Linked DNA regions of Homo sapiens. The gene in region 1 interacts genetically with each later gene. Each region holds a gene or a part of one and is shown in the gene's direction. Other genes may lie near its edges. The genes, in order: MCM2, WDR82 and RUVBL1.

The links.
Region 2: changes in MCM2 (region 1) and WDR82 together harm fitness less than expected from each alone (positive genetic interaction), as found in Homo sapiens cells (one large-scale study listed by BioGRID).
Region 3: changes in MCM2 (region 1) and RUVBL1 together harm fitness less than expected from each alone (positive genetic interaction), as found in Homo sapiens cells (one large-scale study listed by BioGRID).

What each region holds. Positions count from the first base shown.
Region 1 is NC_000003.12:127,604,878-127,608,530, forward strand, and holds part of MCM2 (DNA replication licensing factor MCM2), read left to right. Parts: exon of another isoform or gene 1-18; coding exon 19-279; intron 280-1,240; coding exon 1,241-1,460; intron 1,461-1,732; coding exon 1,733-1,940; intron 1,941-3,504; coding exon 3,505-3,639; intron 3,640-3,653. UniProt on the Homo sapiens protein: Acts as a component of the MCM2-7 complex (MCM complex) which is the replicative helicase essential for 'once per cell cycle' DNA replication initiation and elongation in eukaryotic cells.
Region 2 is NC_000003.12:52,261,601-52,265,253, reverse strand, and holds part of WDR82 (WD repeat-containing protein 82), read left to right. Parts: intron 1-3,653. UniProt on the Homo sapiens protein: Regulatory component of the SET1/COMPASS complex implicated in the tethering of this complex to transcriptional start sites of active genes.
Region 3 is NC_000003.12:128,080,276-128,083,180, reverse strand, and holds the end of RUVBL1 (ruvB-like 1), read left to right. Parts: intron 1-606; coding exon 607-698; intron 699-1,771; coding exon 1,772-1,931; 3' UTR 1,932-2,371; downstream 2,372-2,905. UniProt on the Homo sapiens protein: Possesses single-stranded DNA-stimulated ATPase and ATP-dependent DNA helicase (3' to 5') activity; hexamerization is thought to be critical for ATP hydrolysis and adjacent subunits in the ring-like structure contribute to the ATPase activity.

The sequences.
Region 1 (3,653 bases):
TGTCTCTTGCCTCCCCAGACAGCGATGAGGAGGACGAGGAGCGCCCTGCCCGCAAGCGCCGCCAGGTGGAGCGGGCCACGGAGGACGGCGAGGAGGACGAGGAGATGATCGAGAGCATCGAGAACCTGGAGGATCTCAAAGGCCACTCTGTGCGCGAGTGGGTGAGCATGGCGGGCCCCCGGCTGGAGATCCACCACCGCTTCAAGAACTTCCTGCGCACTCACGTCGACAGCCACGGCCACAACGTCTTCAAGGAGCGCATCAGCGACATGTGCAAAGGTGTGGCTTCCCTACGCCCCCGCCTCAGCCCCTGTAGCGCCTCCCTAAATCCTCCCCAGAAAGTTGTCTGAGCCGAGTGAACACGTGAAGCACAGGGCATATGGCTGAGAGGTCTGTCAGAGAAACCAAAAGTTTTGAGTTTTGCATCAGGGCTCTCCTGCTGGCTATGCAGTGACCACATCTGGGCCACCAAAGCGTTTTTTGACAAGCTTGAAAATGGACAGATTTTATATAAAAATCTGGATTACTACTTTGATCTTTGTAATAGGAATTGACTCTTTTTTTTTTTTTTTTTTTTTTTGAGACGGAGTTTTGTTCTTGTTTCCCAGGCTGGAGTGCAATGGCACGGTCTCGGCTCACTGCAACCTCCGCCTCCTGGGTTCAAGCGTTTCTCATGCCTCAGCCTCCCGAGTAGCTGGAATTACAGGCATGCACCACCATGCCTGACTAATTTTTTTTTTTTAGTAGAGAAGGGGTTTCTCCATGTTGGTCAGACTGGTCTCAAACTCCCGACCTCAGGTGATTTGCCCGCCTTGGCCTCCCAGAGTGTTGAGATAACAGGCGTGAGCCACCGTCCCCAGCCAGGAATTGACTTTTAAAAGGGACATGTAGATCTTGATTCCTGCAATTCCTTCCACTGCTTTTTGTCCTGTGTTTGTCAGTTTCTTCCTGGCTCTTGTAAGGCGTTTCATGTTTGTAGCTGTGTAGGCACTCTGCTCATATTTAATTTAACCCCCCAGCAACTTTGTACACTGTGTGACATGCCCATTTTACGGAGTAGGAAGTTGAAGCTCAGGCTATGTCACAGCTGAAGTGTGGTAGACCTAGAAGTGAAAGCTGGGCTTTCTAGGTCAAAATCAATGGTCGGGGTGGGTAGGCCTTGCTTCTCACACAGGCATTGTTGCAGCCCAGCCCAGGCCTCATGCTTAGTTAACTCTCTTCCCACTGTGCCCCCTTCTAGAGAACCGTGAGAGCCTGGTGGTGAACTATGAGGACTTGGCAGCCAGGGAGCACGTGCTGGCCTACTTCCTGCCTGAGGCACCGGCGGAGCTGCTGCAGATCTTTGATGAGGCTGCCCTGGAGGTGGTACTGGCCATGTACCCCAAGTACGACCGCATCACCAACCACATCCATGTCCGCATCTCCCACCTGCCTCTGGTGGAGGAGCTGCGCTCGCTGAGGTGAGCTGAGGGCAGGTGAGGATGGCAGGTCCGAGCTCAGTGCTGGGTGACTCGGTCGTGATTCCTGAAGAGCGATTGTGGTGTGGGCGGGGAGGGTGCAGCCAGCAGCATCCTCATCGCAGGTGAGTTGTGGTTGCACAGGAGTGTGATGGGAGGGATCTTCCCGGGCTGGGGGCTGGGCCCAATTTCCAGGACAGTGTGTTGGGACACTCTCGTCTGCAGCCTGGCCTCACCCTGGCTCACGGCTTCTGATGCACCCTCTGCCTCCGCAGGCAGCTGCATCTGAACCAGCTGATCCGCACCAGTGGGGTGGTGACCAGCTGCACTGGCGTCCTGCCCCAGCTCAGCATGGTCAAGTACAACTGCAACAAGTGCAATTTCGTCCTGGGTCCTTTCTGCCAGTCCCAGAACCAGGAGGTGAAACCAGGCTCCTGTCCTGAGTGCCAGTCGGCCGGCCCCTTTGAGGTCAACATGGAGGAGGTGAGAGAGGACACAAGGTCTGCTGCCAGCTGTCCTTAGGGGTGCCCAGTATGCAGGACCTGACTGGCCTCTCAGGCTGTGGAAGACCAGTGTGGGCAGCCGCAAGAAGCAAGATAGAATTGTGTGTTGGCCACACCCTGGGGTGGACCCAGTCTGTCTGGCCAGTGGACTTAGCTTGGCCCACACGACGTTTTTAGGAATTCAAGTCAATATTTAAGTCAGGCGATTTGTTTAAACCATACAAGTTTATGGCTCCTCTTGAAACATGAGAAGATCTGGCAAACAGGGCCCACTTCTTGCCAGGTCACTCCTTCAGGATGTGTGCTTACCAGTCTCCATGGTGCCATCACTCACGTGGGGTGGCTGCAGTCCCATCGGGACTTCCCCTCAGCTTGTTTCTGGGACCTGTCTGGCTCACGTGGGGCCCCTGGACCATACCAACCTCCTGCACCATATTCAGGAGACGCTGCCAAAGCCTCTGATGTTAAGGTCTTAGGCACATGTAATGTGCCTTTGTACTTGAGCGTCCCTGTAAATGGGCTCATCGCCATCGCTGTGGTGGCGCCCAGGCCCCTTGACTGCCTTGCTGCTGTGGCTGTTGGCTGTCCTCTTCTCACCGCTCTGCAGTGCAGTTCTGCGAACTGTCCCAGCTGGAGCCACCTTGCCAGAAAATGCCTCAGAGGTTCCACCTGTGGCCACCTACAGCCAAAAGCTGACCCGTCTCGTCTCGGGTGGGGCAGCTGCAGGCCAGATGCCAGCTGAGCCACGTCTTTGCTCACTCTTCCCATGCCCTGTCTGTCTCCCTCAGGCCTTGCTTCTAGGGACCTGAGATAGTACCTGGTAGAGGGTTAACAGTTACAGCTATCATTCATGGAGTAACTTACCAGTGCCAGGTGGTGGGTGGTTTATTACCTGGTCCTTTTTCACAGCTCATGAGGCAGGAACTGTTACTGGCCCCACTTTGCCGAGTGTTTAGAGAACTGGCTGAGGTCACCCAACCAGAATGTGTGTTAGAGGTCCACAGCTCAGGCATCTTGATCTAGAGCATGTGCTTTTAACTGCAGTGCCATGTTGTGAGATAATGGGTACGAAATGACATGGCACAGTGCTGGCCTGTGATACTTGACAGTGACAGCCAAAACTTCCTGTAACTTAACATTTATCAGATGCTGGATTAGGTTGATGTATGTATGACTTGCTTTAATTCTTATTGTGAGGTTGCAGAGAAGGCACAGAGAGAGGAAGTCACTTGCCCAAGATCACACAGCTTAGACACAGAACCCAGGCAGCCTGGTTCCAGCATCGGTACTCAAGACAGCTTAGCTGTAAAGCATAGAGCAGGTGCTGAGTCTGGCCGTCAGAAGGCATCCCAGAGGGATGGTGTGGCAGGAGTGGGGACTGTCAACTGATGTGCTGAGTCGCCATGAACTCATTCCTTGCTGTCTTTGGCTCTCCATTTGCCACTCAGGAGTCGGAATCCTGCCTGTTCTCCCTCCTGTTCGGGGGTCAAGGTTAGGTGACATAGTAAGTCAGTGATTTGAGGCCTTCTGTGTGTCCCTCGCAGACCATCTATCAGAACTACCAGCGTATCCGAATCCAGGAGAGTCCAGGCAAAGTGGCGGCTGGCCGGCTGCCCCGCTCCAAGGACGCCATTCTCCTCGCAGATCTGGTGGACAGCTGCAAGCCAGGAGACGAGATAGTAAGTGGCCGGGG
Region 2 (3,653 bases), about 75 Mb from region 1:
ATGTTGGCTCACTGCAGGCTCCGCCTCTTGGGTTCACGCCATTCTCCTGCCTCAGCCTCCTGAGTAGCTGGGACCACAGGCACCCGCCACCAAGCCCCGCTAGTTTTTTGTATTTTTAGTAGAGATGGGGTTTTACCGTGTTACCCAGGATGGTCCCTGATCCGCCCGCCTCAGCCTCCCAAAGTGCTGGGATTACAGACGTGAGCCACCGCACCCGGCTGGCCGACCTCCTGATTCTTGATAGATGACTTTGTCCCTCCTTTTATGAGAAAATCAAGGCTATACAAAATGAGTTATTTCAGCTGGGTGTGGTGGTTAAGGCCTGTTATCAGCACTTTGGGAGGCTGAGGTGAGAGGATCGCTTGAGTCTGGGAGGTTGAGGCTGCAGTGAGCCATGATTGTGCCACTGTACTCCAGCCTGGGTGACAAAGCAAGACCGTGTCTCCAAAAAAAAGAGTTCTTTTAAACATCTATCCCTTCCACCTAAATTCTGTCTTCCTTGGAATCCTTTCCTTGAGAAAGCTGTTGTCTTTCTTTCACAAAACAGACCTTCCTCTTTCTGCTTGCTTCCATCTCCTTAATTGGCCTTTCCTTTGTTGCCTACAAATTTACTTGGTCTTTCTTATCTTAAATCTACTTATTGACCCTATCACCCACTCCTTTTCACTATCAAACTTGAAAGAAGAATCTGTACATTCCCATCTCCACCTCCTCACACATGTTCACTGTTGAAATCATTTTTGCACTAGTCCCAGAATCGTCTATGGGGCTTTATCCAAACCTTTATCCTTCATTCCCTGCTGCCTCTAGTTAAAAAGCCACTGGTTTGGGCTTTTCTTGGTGCTTAACCTCTCAGTAAAACTTACTTTCCCGTGGCAGGTGACTTTTCCCATGTCGGTTCTGTTCTTGTAGTTTTCAGCCTCTGTTTTGACTCTAAAATAAACAAATATTTTATCCGCTTTCTTATCTCCATCGCTGATTTCATTTACCTCCATTCAGGTGGCTTCCCAAATCAGTATTTTTAGCTCATGTCTATTATCAGTTTCAGACCCGCCTTCCACCTACAGGTTTTGTTTGTTTTTTTGTTTTTTGAGATGGAGGCTCACCGGGTCACCCAGGCTGGAGTGCAATGGCATGATCTTGGCTCACTGCAACCTCCACCTCCTGAGTTCAAACGATTCTCCTGCCTCAGCCTCCCGAATAGCTGGGATTACAGGCACGCACCATCATGCCCGGCTAATTTTTGTGTTTTTATAGAGACAGGGTTTCACCATGTTGGCCAGGCCGCTGTCAAACTCCTGACCTCAGGTGATCCATCCGCCTCAGCCTCCCAAAGTGCTGGGATTACAGGCATGAGCCACTGCACCCAGCACCACCTACATGTTTTATACACATCTTTGTAGCTGTCTCTTCTGTCCAATACTCTTTCTAATACTCAGGTCCAGTACTCTGTCCATCATTGTTACCTTTTTTGGGCCAGCTTCTCTCTGTCTTCCTCATATTTATTCATCTCTGTCTCTTCCAATTCTGGCTCAAAGCATCTGTTGTTAGTTCACTCTTTTTCCCCTGCCATCATATTCAGTGAGTTGTTAAACTATTTAGTTCTCCCTAGGTTTAACCTCATGTGTCACTTTCCTCTGTGTTCTCTCCTTTGCTTCTGCCCTGGCTCATGCCCTGTGAGGTAAATTATTGTTAGCTCCTAATTAATCTTCCCATCTCTTACCATCCTGTTTCAGCTTCCTGGATTGCAGTTTGATTGCTTCACAATCTCTCTTAATGGTTCTCTATATTTTCATTGCTCCTTCCCCTTGTAGTCAGGTTCTGTCCCTTCTGGCTCTGACCCATTTTCTCAGCATTTTCTCCCACCATTCCCATTAAGGTGAACTCTGGGCTACTTCTTTGAAATCCTTTCTACCTCAGATGTTGTATCTTTCCAGAAGCCTTCTCTGGTCCTCTTGGAGTCATGTGGACTGGACAGTTAAAATTCCTTACGGTCGGGGTCTTACTTCTCCATGTGTTCCCTGTACTTCTCAGCATAGAGTCTTGTGCTGAGCTCTTGGGCTGAATGCCATGGCATAAAATTACATGTCCACAACGTGTTCTGCTCATTCTGATTTTTGTTTTTTGAGACGGTGCCTTGCTCTGTTTCCCAGGCTGGAATGCAGTGGTGTGATCTTGGCTCACTGCAGCCTCCATCTCTGGGGTTCAAGCGATTCTTCCGCCTCAGCCTCTTGAGTAGCTGGGATTACAGGTGTACGCCACCAGGCCTGGCTAATTTTTGTATTTTTATTAGTGGTGGGATTTCACCATGTTGGCCAAGCTGGTCTCAAACTCCTGACCTCAGGTGATCGCCCACCTGGGCCTCCCAAAGTGCTGGGATTACAGGCATGAGCCACCGCACCTGGCCTGCTCATTGTGTTTTATTACCTCCTCAGCATTCTCAGGAAATTTTGGCTTTTAACAATACCTTTTAAAATTTTAACTTGAGGAGCTGGTGCAGATGTTAGTTGAGTTACATTGGAAGAAAATGTTTTTCAGTGAGTGTCTCTTGATGGTATAACCACAAAAGGGAACCAAAAAAGGAATACAGTTGCTGTTAGCATAGGCTTGTGGTTCTCTAGGTGTGGTGCCCAAAACAGCAGCCTCACCCATCACCTGGGGGCTAGTTAGAAACTCAGATTCACAGACCCCAAGTCAGGCCTACTGGATTAGAGGCTCTGGGAGCAGATCCTAGCAGTCTGTTTTAACCCACCCTCCAGGTGATGCTGATGCCACTTAGGTTTGAGAATATCTGTGTAGTCCTCACACATCTTGATAAGGAATCATGCTTTTTTGTGTTTTTTTAATTGAGATACAGTCTACATACTGTAAATGATTCCTTTAAAAATGTACAGTTCAGTGGTTTTTACTATATTTGCAAAGTTGGACAACTATCACCATCATCTAACTTCAGAACATTTTTATCACTCCAAAGAGAAACTCTGTACCCATTAGTAATCACTCCCTCAGCCCCTACCAACTGCTGATCTACTTCTGTCTTTATAGATTTGCCTATTCTAGACATTTTGTGTAAATGGATCAGTTCATATCTGATCTTTTGTGCCTGGCTTCTTTTACTTAGCATGGTGTTCCCAAGGTTCCTCCATGTTGTCACATGAGGCAGTACTTTATTACTTTTTATTGCCAAATAATGTTCCAGTGTATAGATACAGCACATTTTGTTTGTCCATCCATTAGTTAATGGACCATTTGGGTTATTTCTACTTTTTGGCTGTTATGAATAGTGCAGATCTGAACATATGTGTACATTTTTGTGTGGACATATATTTTCAGTTATCTTGGGTAAATACCTAGGAGTGGAGTTTCTGGGTCACGTGGTAACTTTTTTTGGAAAAACTTTTCCAAAGCAACTGTACCATTTTTACATTTCCATTAGCAATGTATGAGGGTTCCAATTTCTCTGCATCCTCACCAACACTTGTTATCTCTCTTATTATAGCTATGCTAGAGGGTGTGGAGTAGTATTTCATTGTGGTTTTGATTTGCATTGGAATCATATATTTTTATTTTGTAGCTTTAAATTTTTTTTTTTATACTAGTTGCCTTTGTTTGTTCCAGATATGGTTGTGGTATGTGTGTTTTATTGTGTTTCT
Region 3 (2,905 bases), 480 kb from region 1:
CGCCGCCAGCCTGCCTCCCCTCCAACTCTACCAAGATCTTCAAACTGCAACAAGCGTCAGCCTCTTCTTGATAGATTAGATATCTCCCGGTGATGTTATGAGGCCTGGTAAATCTTTAAAAGTAACTGTTTTGATTTATTTAACCATCATATTTATCAAGCAAATAAAAAATGTCCCTTCTTGCCTGAGTGCTTGTAGGCAGTAGTGCCCATGCTGGAGAGGAAGGTTAGAGCCCTTGCAGGAGCCCCGGGTAGGTTAGAAGAGGCCCCAGTTCTCTGCCTGGGGACAGGGGACGGGAGGACATGGAGGCAAGAGTGAGCCACTTGGGAAGCTGCATACCTCCTTGGGCACCAGCCACACTTGAGTCAGTTGAATACAGCACACTGGCCGTGATGCTATTCATGCATACTGCAGGGCCGCACATGCCTCCTGGAGGGTGCCGGGCCGGCAGTGCTGGGCAGGCGTTGGCTCCCTGCCCACCAACCCAGGTCTCAGTTTCTCTTATGCTGCACAGTGAGAAATCTGAGCAACATTGTCTTTAAAGCACTTTAGAAATGGGGCACTTGAGGTCAGTCACCGTTGATCATGTTTTTTATCCTTTAAAAGATCATTAAAATCCGTGCCCAGACGGAAGGAATCAACATCAGTGAGGAGGCACTGAACCACCTGGGGGAGATTGGCACCAAGACCACACTGAGGTGAGCTGGTACCCTGGGCCCGCCGGGGCCTCCCCAGCACAGCCAGGGCCCTCGCTGGGGTCATTCTGGACAATAAAGGCAGGTCCCTTCCTAGGGCATGGGACTCTATCCATCCGCTCTTCCTGGCGCGATGGGTGCCAGGGCACTTGAGTTTCAAATGCAGAGGATCTATCTGATGGTTTTTAACAAGCTAGAGTAAGGGTGAAGTCCCCATGTCCTGCAGCAGATGCTCCCCTCTGGTGGAGAGTGCTTTGACCCTGGGCCTTCTTGTGGCAGAGAAGATGCACAGAACTAGAGAGCAGGGACCATGTGGTAGCTCATTAGCCAGGGCCCTGGCTCCTGTTCTCCCGGTGGTGTTATGAGGCCTGGTAAATCTTTAACTTTTTTGATTTATTTAACCATCAAGCAAATAAAAAATGTCTGGGTGGTGGATATGGAGAGCCAGGGAGGAGCGCAGACATAGACAGTTCTCCTAATTGTTCTCCAGCGGCTCAAACACAGGACCGGCAGAGCATGTCCCTTCACAGTGGCCTGACTCATTGTAAAATCATTGCTTCACAGTCCTCAGCCCTTCCCTACATCCCTTGAGTCAGTTCTTGCTCCTGAGGTTGAAGGCAGAAATGCAAGCTGTGAGGTTTGGATGAAGGGGTACTTTTTAAAACGGCAGAGTCTTCATGCCTTTGGATGGGCATGTACTTCCAGCTGGCTATGTTTTCATTTCCCTGCCATGTTAAATATCCCTATCTGTCGGACACCTGTATACATATAAGTTTGCAGTCCTTTTCCAGTAGCAGTGACATTACTTCCTACTGGAGGATTTGTAGACTGTACTAAAGATTTGGGGAATAGCACTTATGTCTTCTTGGTGGCTCCTGGACCCTCTCTGATGGGATAATGACTGCAGCTCTCTGAGAAGTGACAACTTTGTCTCCCCTTTTCTGTGTTCGTAGCAGCTGGCACAAGCCCAGCACTGGGCTCTGCTCCTGGTGCCAGTGCTGCCTACTGATGTGGGGGGAAGGTGCTTTCTTCGGTGGCCCCAGTTTCACTCCAGCCCTGGCCCCTGTCCACTCTAGGTACTCAGTGCAGCTGCTGACCCCGGCCAACTTGCTTGCTAAAATCAACGGGAAGGACAGCATTGAGAAAGAGCATGTCGAAGAGATCAGTGAACTTTTCTATGATGCCAAGTCCTCCGCCAAAATCCTGGCTGACCAGCAGGATAAGTACATGAAGTGAGATGGCTGAGGTTTTCAGCAGTAAGAGACTCCCCAGGTGTGCCTGGCCTGGGTCCAGCCTGTGGGCGCTTGCCCCTGGGCTTGGGGCTGCCGTCCCCACTCAGGCGTGGTCTGCAGCGCTGTCAGTTCAGTGTGGAAAGCATTTCTTTTTAAGTTATCGTAACTGTTCCTGTGGTTGCTTTGAAAGAACCCTTCCTTACCTGGTGTGTTTTCTATAAATCTTCATAGGTTATTTTGATTCTCTCTCTCTCTCTCTCTAAGTTTTTTAAAAATAAACTTTTCAGAACAGTTTTAGATGTACAGAGTCATTGTGAACATACAATAGGGAGTTCCCATGTATCTTGTACCCAGTTTCCCTTCTTGTTAACGTGTTACATCAGATAGCACATTTGTCACCGTGAATGACCAATACTGATGCATTATTCTACTGCGTTCACATTTTCTCAGTTTTACCTAATGTCCTTTTTCTGTCCCAGGATCCCATCCAGGATAACCCATTACAACTAGTTGTCATGTCTCCTTAGATGCCTCTTGGCTGTGACATCTTCTTAGATTTTCCTTGTTCTTGATGACCCTGACAGTTTTGAGGAGGACTGATCAGGTATCTGTAGAACATCCCTCAGTTGGGGTTTGTCTGATGCTTTTCTCATGAGTAGACTGGGATTGTGGGTTATGGAGAGGAAGACTAGAGGTGAAATGTGGTTCTGATCACATCGTATCATGTGTGGTTCTCATCACATGCTAGCAACATGACTCATCGTTGATGGTGAGCTTGACCCTTTGGCTGAGGTCATGTTTGTCGGGTCTTCTCACTGTAAAGTTACTCTCTGCTGCCTTTCCATACTGAATTCTTTGGAAGGAAGTCACTATATGCAGCCCACACTTAAGTGGCAGGGGTTATGCTCACCTCTAGAGAACTGAGTATTTACCAAAATTATTTGGGATTCTGCATGGAAGATTGTATCAGAATGGACT